Regions from separate parts of the Homo sapiens genome. Here region 1 is linked to region 2. The links come from fine-mapping of genetic effects on gene expression. A gene starts in region 2. The other region holds a variant in brackets. All regions are shown on one strand. Distances are between the middles of the regions.

Evidence for each region. PIP is the estimated chance that this variant, and not a neighbour inherited with it, causes the effect. A credible set is the group of variants that fine-mapping cannot tell apart.
Region 1: its variant is the best candidate, but not a certain one, in a credible set for the expression of DBF4 in testis (GTEx, PIP 0.72).

The regions. Positions count from the first base shown.
Region 1 is chr7:87,906,171-87,910,568 of GRCh38, forward strand. It overlaps DBF4 (DBF4-CDC7 kinase regulatory subunit), which reads left to right. Exons shown (of 12, transcript NM_006716.4): 12 at 1,018-3,383. The coding sequence ends at 1,993. Among named protein-coding and RNA genes, the nearest start is that of ADAM22, 26 kb to the right of the region's middle. The variant T/C (reference allele first, on the strand shown) is at 2,048.
Region 2 is chr7:87,874,304-87,878,701 of GRCh38, forward strand. DBF4 (DBF4-CDC7 kinase regulatory subunit) reads left to right here and starts at 2,190. Exons shown (of 12, transcript NM_006716.4): 1 at 2,190-2,475; 2 at 3,750-3,922. The coding sequence starts at 2,430. It overlaps SLC25A40 (solute carrier family 25 member 40), which reads right to left and starts at 2,057. Exons shown (of 12, transcript NM_018843.4): 1 at 1,793-2,057. RefSeq lists silencers at 1,450-1,899, 2,030-2,289 and enhancers at 1,653-2,162, 2,350-2,469.

The sequences.
Region 1 (4,398 bases), 32 kb after region 2:
ACAAAAAAACTATGTGGGCTACTCTAAGAACTTATAATTCCCTAAAAACTCAGTCTGCAGCAAAATTCTGAGCTAGTACTGGTTGTTCCTTAATTGTCACTTCTGTGGGCAAGTGTCCTAAACATCTTGGACTTAAAAGCCATGTTAGAGTAGTTTTTTTTTTTTTTTTTACATTTTTTTATTGCCCATTTGTTCAAAGAGAATTGTTTGTAAGTAAATGTATGAACAAGATAAAAAAGAACATTCTGGTTGAAGGGGCAGGAAAAATTGTATTATTTCTCACAGTTAATCTGTGACATGCGGAACACAAAATGTAATTGGTGAGCTATTAACTTTTTCTCTAATTGTATATTATTTAGGTTTGTCTAATACAAACTGGAATTTCAGGGATATCAAGATGCTCCATGAAGAAAATAATTTTAGGTCAAATATGTTTGAAGCTTAAAAGTTACAACTTTGTCACCTTTGAAAGTATAAAGATACTAAGTTTCTAGCTCACTTTGATATTAAATATTCTTAAATGTAAATTTAAAATATATGTTTTTGCCATAGGTTTCTCAGTAAATACTTATTCTCCACATTGCTAAGTAAAATGAAGAGTAAAATGTGCATTAATGTAAATCAAAGCACAGAAGTTAAGAAATTGTTCAGAATAATGAAAGCAAAATTAGGGGCAGGCTCAAATCCCTTTACTATCAATTTCTTTCATTTACATGATTAAAGTAATTTTAAATGTCAAAATTCAGGATATTGGTTATCTGGGAGGGAGGCAGGGAATGTAGAGGAGAAGAGAGGTACACTAGGGTTTTCAGCTATATCTGAAAAGTTGTATTACTTTAAAAACAGCTCAAGTAAATTTGGCAAAATGTTAAGATGTTTGTATTTTTGTAAAATTTCCTAAGTTAAATAGGTTTCTTAAAGATTATATAATGTTTTTACTAATTTAATTTCTAACTACTCAGGAATTTGTTTTGATAGCAATTATTTTAATATTTTTCTTCTATTTTTCCTACAAAGAATAAAATACAGTGTTGGATCCCTTTCTCCTGTTTCTGCAAGTGTCCTGAAAAAGACTGAACAAAAGGAAAAAGTGGAATTGCAACATATTTCTCAGAAAGATTGCCAGGAAGATGATACAACAGTGAAGGAGCAGAATTTCCTGTATAAAGAGACCCAGGAAACTGAAAAAAAGCTCCTGTTTATTTCAGAGCCCATCCCCCACCCTTCAAATGAATTGAGAGGGCTTAATGAGAAAATGAGTAATAAATGTTCCATGTTAAGTACAGCTGAAGATGACATAAGACAGAATTTTACACAGCTACCTCTACATAAAAACAAACAGGAATGCATTCTTGACATTTCCGAACACACATTAAGTGAAAATGACTTAGAAGAACTAAGGGTAGATCACTATAAATGTAACATACAGGCATCTGTACATGTTTCTGATTTCAGTACAGATAATAGTGGATCTCAACCAAAACAGAAGTCAGATACTGTGCTTTTTCCAGCAAAGGATCTCAAGGAAAAGGACCTTCATTCAATATTTACTCATGATTCTGGTCTGATAACAATAAACAGTTCACAAGAGCACCTAACTGTTCAGGCAAAGGCTCCATTCCATACTCCTCCTGAGGAACCCAATGAATGTGACTTCAAGAATATGGATAGTTTACCTTCTGGTAAAATACATCGAAAAGTGAAAATAATATTAGGACGAAATAGAAAAGAAAATCTGGAACCAAATGCTGAATTTGATAAAAGAACTGAATTTATTACACAAGAAGAAAACAGAATTTGTAGTTCACCGGTACAGTCTTTACTAGACTTGTTTCAGACTAGTGAAGAGAAATCAGAATTTTTGGGTTTCACAAGCTACACAGAAAAGAGTGGTATATGCAATGTTTTAGATATTTGGGAAGAGGAAAATTCAGATAATCTGTTAACAGCGTTTTTCTCGTCCCCTTCAACTTCTACATTTACTGGCTTTTAGAATTTAAAAAATGCATACTTTTCAGAAGTGATAAGGATCATATTCTTGAAATTT[T/C]TATAAATATGTATGGAAATTCTTAGGATTTTTTTACCAGCTTTGTTTACAGACCCAAATGTAAATATTAAAAATAAATATTTGCAATTTTCTACAGAATTGAATACCTGTTAAAGAAAAATTACAGAATAAACTTGTGACTGGTCTTGTTTTACATTATATATATGTTCGTAATTGTTTCCTGAGAATTACAATGAATAATAATTTGCTTTGTCACTGAAAACCACCAGTGAAGTGCAATTTGGGGAATATCAAACTTAGCATTATACATTTGGATATTCTAGTTGTATTGTAAATTTTAAAAGATTATCAGGATAACATGACCTTGCCTTGAAAAACCTAAATTTCATACAGAAAGGAAAAATACATTTCTATGCTTGAATTCTGGAAATCATCAGAAATATTGACACTTGAGGGTCACTGGTGGACCATGCTAGTATTTTGGTGCTGAGTAATTAGATTATGTATAGGGGTAACTGGAAGCCATGAAGGAAGGACTTAACCAGGCTACCAAGTGGAATATAATTTATCTGCTATTTTTAATTACTTACCTTGTAAATAACTTTAATAATATTCAAAAGTTGACTCTCCTGTGGCTCATGCCACAGGATCCCAGCACTTTGGGAGGCCGAGGCAGGCTGATCACGAGGTCAGAAGATCAAGACCATCCTGGCCAACATGGTGAAACCTTGTCTACTAAAAATACAAAAAATTAGCTGGGCATGGCGGCATGCGCCTGTAGTCCCAGCTACTCCCTCCAGAGGCTGAGAATTGCTTGAACCTGGGAAGTGCAGGTTGCAGTGAGCCAAGATTGTGCCACTGTATTCCAGACTGGGTGACAGAGTGAGACTCCATCTCAAAAAAAAAAAAGTTGACTCTACCCCCTAATTTGGTAGGAGATGAAGGAGAAAAGGATGGCATTGAATTATAGATACAGTTTTGGGATATATACAAGGATTGCCTTGATCTGGCACTTACTGATACAAGCATTTGGAGAAGAGAAAATTCAAATATAAGAAATTTCAATTTGAATCTGTGGATATAAGGCATTTGCCTTTGAGTATGTTCTTGTAGGAGTAAGACTACCACCAGTGACATTCAATTGGTTCTATTGCATAGTACATGAATCTATTGTCACTAAAAATTAGGTTACTAATCTTAATTTTTTTGAAATATATGATTCTCAGTACAGGACTAATTCATATGCTTTTCCTGCATACATTATTTTGATCATTTGGATAACATCAATGAACACTGGCTTTTTAACACCTTTGTTTTTCATACCAGTACCTGAAGTAGGCTCAATAAAAGAGTCTTTACAGTGCATACACGCAAACCCTGTTTCCATTGTAAATTATTGTTCCATTTTCTATCACAAATACATGTATGTATGTGTAAACATACGTAAGGTTTCGTAGACAACCTTTGAAAAATCTAAATGGAACTTGGAAAATTATTTGCAGGTTTATTTCCCTTTAGTTATCAGTGTTCCCCAAATTTTCCAAATAACTGAAAGGTATGTAAAGTCACTGTATGATCCTTTGACTTTAAGAGTAACAGTGTCTGGCTGGGCGCGGTGGCTCACGCCTGTAATCCCAGCACTTTGAGAGGCCAAGGCGGGCGGATCACGAGGTCAGGAGATCGAGACCATCCTGGCCAACATGATGAAACCCTGTCTCTACTAAACTACAAAAAATTCGCTGGGCATGGTGGTGCGCTCCTGTAATCCCAGCTACTTGGGAGGCTGAGGCAGGAGAATCGCTTGAACCCCGGAGGCAGAAATTGCAGCGAGCCGAGATTGTGCCATTGCACTCCAGCCTGGTGACAGAGCGAGACTCCGTCTCAAAAAAAAAAAAAAAAAAAGTGTCTTCAATTTACAGTGGTACTCTGGGCATCATTTTACATTAAGTTATACTTACTAAGGAGAAAAAGTCTGAACCCTTCAGTAAAAGTTGTTAAACTATTTGACACTGGATATTGGACTTTTGGAACACCACATGGTCTTCATAATGAGTATTCAGCTTTTTTCAAGTGCTTAAATTTCAGTTTACTTGGAATAATTTCAGTTTACTTGGGCCACCACATACAGTTTGGATTGTGCTGTGCAGCTATGCAGATGGGCACCCAGCCAGTGAGATGAAGGCAGGTTATTTGCAGCAAGTAGTGTGTCCTGGCAATGAGGTGCATCTACCTAGAGGTAGGGGTAGTTTTTCCTATTTTTTACCAAGGCACAGCCAAGGTAGTGTTTACCCAGAAGGTTCTTTGCCTTTTTGTTTTTGTTTGTTGTGTGTGTGGTTTTTCTTTTTTTTTCTTTTTTTTTTTTTTTATTGTTTTTGTTGTTGTTGTTTTGA
Region 2 (4,398 bases):
CATAAAATGGGACTTCCTTTTTTAAAAAAAAGTTCCTCAATAGAAGCATGCTTAAAAATCTTTCCCACATCCTCTAAACCTTCCAAAGATCCAGTCTTCCCTTCATTATACTTTCCTACAATAACAAATTTTTTTGAAAGAGTACACTCAACCTGTCTGAACTTCAAGATTATAATTTTTATCTAGTACTGTACTTATCTCTGCCACCTACTCAAATTACCCTTAAGGAAACCAAGGATACCTGAAACGCCAAAATCAAATACTTATTTTTCAAGTCTTAACCTTATCTGTCCTGGGGATGAAGGAACTGGTGCAGTGTTCACTAGAATGATAGTAATTATGGAGCTCTTAAGGAGCTCTACTCTGTGCCAGGCACTGTACTAAGCATTCAAAAATGTTCATTTAATCTTCACAACATCCCTGAGAAGTACTACCCCCTTTTAATAGATTAAAATTGGGGCTCAAAATTACCCAGAGGCCAAGTAGTTAGTGAAGCCCATATGATTCCAATGTTTGCAGTCTCTTCCCAATTCTGTGGCATTTTCTCCATCTCTTTCACTATTTCATCAACGACGCTTATAATCAATTCTCTTATTTCACATGCTCTCCTTGGCAATTTCATTTCCTCCCAAAGCTTTAACTACATTCTATATTAGTGCTTCCCAACTTTTTAAATCTTTCTGTAAATATAAACATTTTGTGCTCTCTGTAGCTTATATTTTGAAAATAAGTTTTTTCCCATAGAAATTACAATATTGAATATGTTTGTTCAAACTACACTTCCTTCCACCACTCAAGATCTGTTAACCTCTAATGAATTGCCCCATGATTGACATCAATAGACCTTGATGCAGAAATATTTTATTGGAGAGATATCAAATCAATCTCTATTTCCTCTTCCCATGTCCACTTCTGCTAGACATTTCTCTCGAGTCATAAACATCTTTAACTGTCTAATAAGCATAGTTCCATGACTGTCGCCCCAGGCCCTTCAACATAAACCTGTCTAAAACCAAACTCTCATTTCCCTTAGCAAACCTGTTCTCTGCGTTCTCCAGCTAATCTTGTCACAACCCACCCTTGTCTATTCTTTAAGGTACCTACCTGCAAAACCGTAACGCTGATACTCTGACTTCCTTGAGCTACCAGGTAAAAAAATCAACCACTACAGGAGTGCCTATTATGGCCTGGAGTAGAGGAATGCAAAATAGTTCAAAATATCCTCTTCCTCCTGAAGAAACAGATTTTTTTTTTTTTTTGGAGAGGCATGTTCCAACTTATAAAATTAAAATATATTCACAAGCATTTTAATTTGATCTTTAATCTCTGTTTTACAGGAAAAAAAAATGAGATGTTACTTTCCACTCCTTCATTGTTGAAATAAACTTACACTCAACTAAAAGAAAACAGGTCTGAATACAATAAAAGTCAACAGGACAGCGCAAATAGCCAACTACCCAAGGACACAAAGTGACCTGGAGGCGTTCTGCGGTGGCGCTGCCGTCAAGGCCGGGGCCGCCTGGCCAGACCCTCCCTCAGACGCCCCCCGGGGCCGCCCTCACTCCCGCACGTCCCTCTGCAGCTGTCCTCAGCCGGTGGGGTCGGCAGTGACCGCGGGAAAACCCCGCTTGCTGTGCGACCCAGGGCGCGCTGAGCAGGGGCTGCGGCTGCCGCCGCTGTCCGGCTCCGGTTCCGGCCCCGGCCCCGGGCCCGGCCAGAGCTGAGTCCGGACTCAGCCAAAGCCCCTCGCCTTCAGCTTCCCAGACGTCCGACCAGTGGAAAATTAGCATACCTGGGGCAGAAGGCAGCTGCAGGGCCGGCAGTCCTGGCAAACCTAGAAGGCGGGAATAACCCTGGTGACGGGCGGGGCCGGGCTCCGGCGCTAACTGCATCCACTAGGTTTGGTCAACACAGAGCCGCGCCAACTCTCTGAGGCTGCGCCAAGACCTGAAGCGGCGGACCGAGAGCCCGGGTCTGAGACTGAGAGAGCAACGGAATGGAGGCGGGGTAGAGGCGGAAACACAACCTGCAGGGCCAGAGCGAGGCGCGAGAAGGACGGCGGCGTGAGGGGGCGGGGCGCGCAGCGCGAGAAGGCAGGCACGAGGGGCGAGCGCGAGGCGGGGCACGGCGCGTGGCGTGAGACGGGGCGGGGCGCGCGTATCGGCGCCGCGGCCGCGTGACGCGTTTTCAAATCTTCAACCGCCGCAGCCCACTCGTTTGTGCTTTGCGCCTTCCTCCTCCGCGCCTTGGAGCCGGATCCGGCCCCGGAAACCCGACCTGCAGACGCGGTACCTCTACTGCGTAGAGGCCGTAGCTGGCGGAAGGAGAGAGGCGGCCGTCCTGTCAACAGGCCGGGGGAAGCCGTGCTTTCGCGGCTGCCCGGTGCGACACTTTCTCCGGACCCAGCATGTAGGTGCCGGGCGACTGCCATGAACTCCGGAGCCATGAGGATCCACAGTAAAGGACATTTCCAGGGTAAGAAGCCCCTCCTCCGCCTGCAGTCCCTTTAATCCTTTCCTCCCCTCGTGGTTCCACCATTGATTCTTCAGACTTCTCCCGCCGGGTCCTCAGCTTCTTTTCTTCTGACCGGCCTCTGGGGTCTGAAGGAAGGAGCCCCCGTTCAGTGTTTTGCCTAAGAAGGAACGGATCCTGACCCGGCCCCTCGAGCGCTCTGCCGTTTACAGCGGCGGTCCCAGATTGATTCCCGGTCGTGCCTTCGGTTGAAAACTAGCAAACAATGTGCAGATCCGGGACCTCGCCGGGACTGCGGCGCTGTCTGCTCCCGGGCTCTCGCATATGCTAAGCCTCCGCCCGGGCCCTTGGAGGCGACGGACTGCATCCTCAATTTAAAGTCAGACGCGCTCGTGGCTTTTCGCTTCAGGATTAGATTGAGTGATTGTGGGTGGATTTTTGGTCTTACCCTTGAAAGTTTATTTTCCTTTCCTCATAAGTTGGGGGAAAGCATTGTATTTCAAACACCCCATTGCTGGTTTCAACATTACAAACAGGGAAACAAAAGCAAATTTCCATTTTCAGTCACTTTATTTGGTGAAACATTCCAGCACCTAAGTTTTTTGTACAGGTGTTTGTGTGTGTGTAGTAACTACCAATTTAAGAACAGATTGCGTTTGAAAAATTAATTTTTAAAGCAGTTGCTTGGATCTCAGATCTGTTTCTAATGAAAATAATGAAAGGTTTAGTTCTTCGTAATGGACCGTTAAGTTCTTAATACGTAGACAAATTGTATGTGAAATGGACCGTTTAGTTGTTAATATGCAGACAAACTTTATATGAAACTAAAACTTGAGCAGTCTGAAACCCTTGAGGACTAGGTTATTCTGCGTAACAGAGGATTCTTTCATCGCTAAATGAAGTTTAAACACCAGTTTTGAATGTTCAGCAGAATGGCAGATGCTCAATAAATAGTTGAGTATTAAATATCCCCATGGAGTTTACATCCTAAAAAAAGAAAATCTTTCAAAAGAGTTTTATATAGTTCCGTGCCTCAGGAATAAACACACGAATATTTCTTGCTGAGTCAACTATTATTTTACAATATGCGGTCTGTGAAAGTATATAGGGCATTTTGCCTCTATCCTAAGTAGTACTACAAAGAAATACATTTCAATGCTAATAACTTAAACTGGTAGGGTTGTAAGGATTTTTATTCTGTAATATTGTATAATGAAATATTTTAAAAATAGTAAAAGTGTCTGTGTAAAACATCTGATTCTAAACATCTTTAATAGGTGGAATCCAAGTCAAAAATGAAAAAAACAGACCATCTCTGAAATCTCTGAAAACTGATAACAGGCCAGAAAAATCCAAATGTAAGCCACTTTGGGGAAAAGTATTTTACCTTGACTTACCTTCTGTCACCATATCTGAAAAACTTCAAAAGGACATTAAGGATCTGGGAGGGGTAAGTGAAAACCGTACACTGGCATAGAAGGAAAAATTTGTAACTAGTACTTTCTACTGTGTAATCATTTAAATTTTTCATTTTGGAAAACGCTTCTATTAGCACCAAGCTTAACATTTTTATCAGCTGTTTATCGTTAACAAAAAACCATTTGTTTTAACCTTTTGTGGACTGACAGACCTTTCAGGTTTCTCTGATTAGCAGTCTAGTGTAAAGTTCTTAGAGTGTAAGACTCCCCTGTCCTAGTGGAACTGCTCATTGACTGCTTACTGTAATGTTGGAATGTCCTCCAGATAACAGCAATTTCTTGATTATGAATCTTGGGGAGCTACATAAGTTTGTCTGGACTAGTGTAACAGTTAAGAATGTTACTACAGAACAGCCATGCAAACCACAGTTAAAATTGTTCCTGAGTGATACAGATGTTGTTTCAACAGAATGAATGTTATTAAAGGAAAAGAAATTTGCATTAAGAA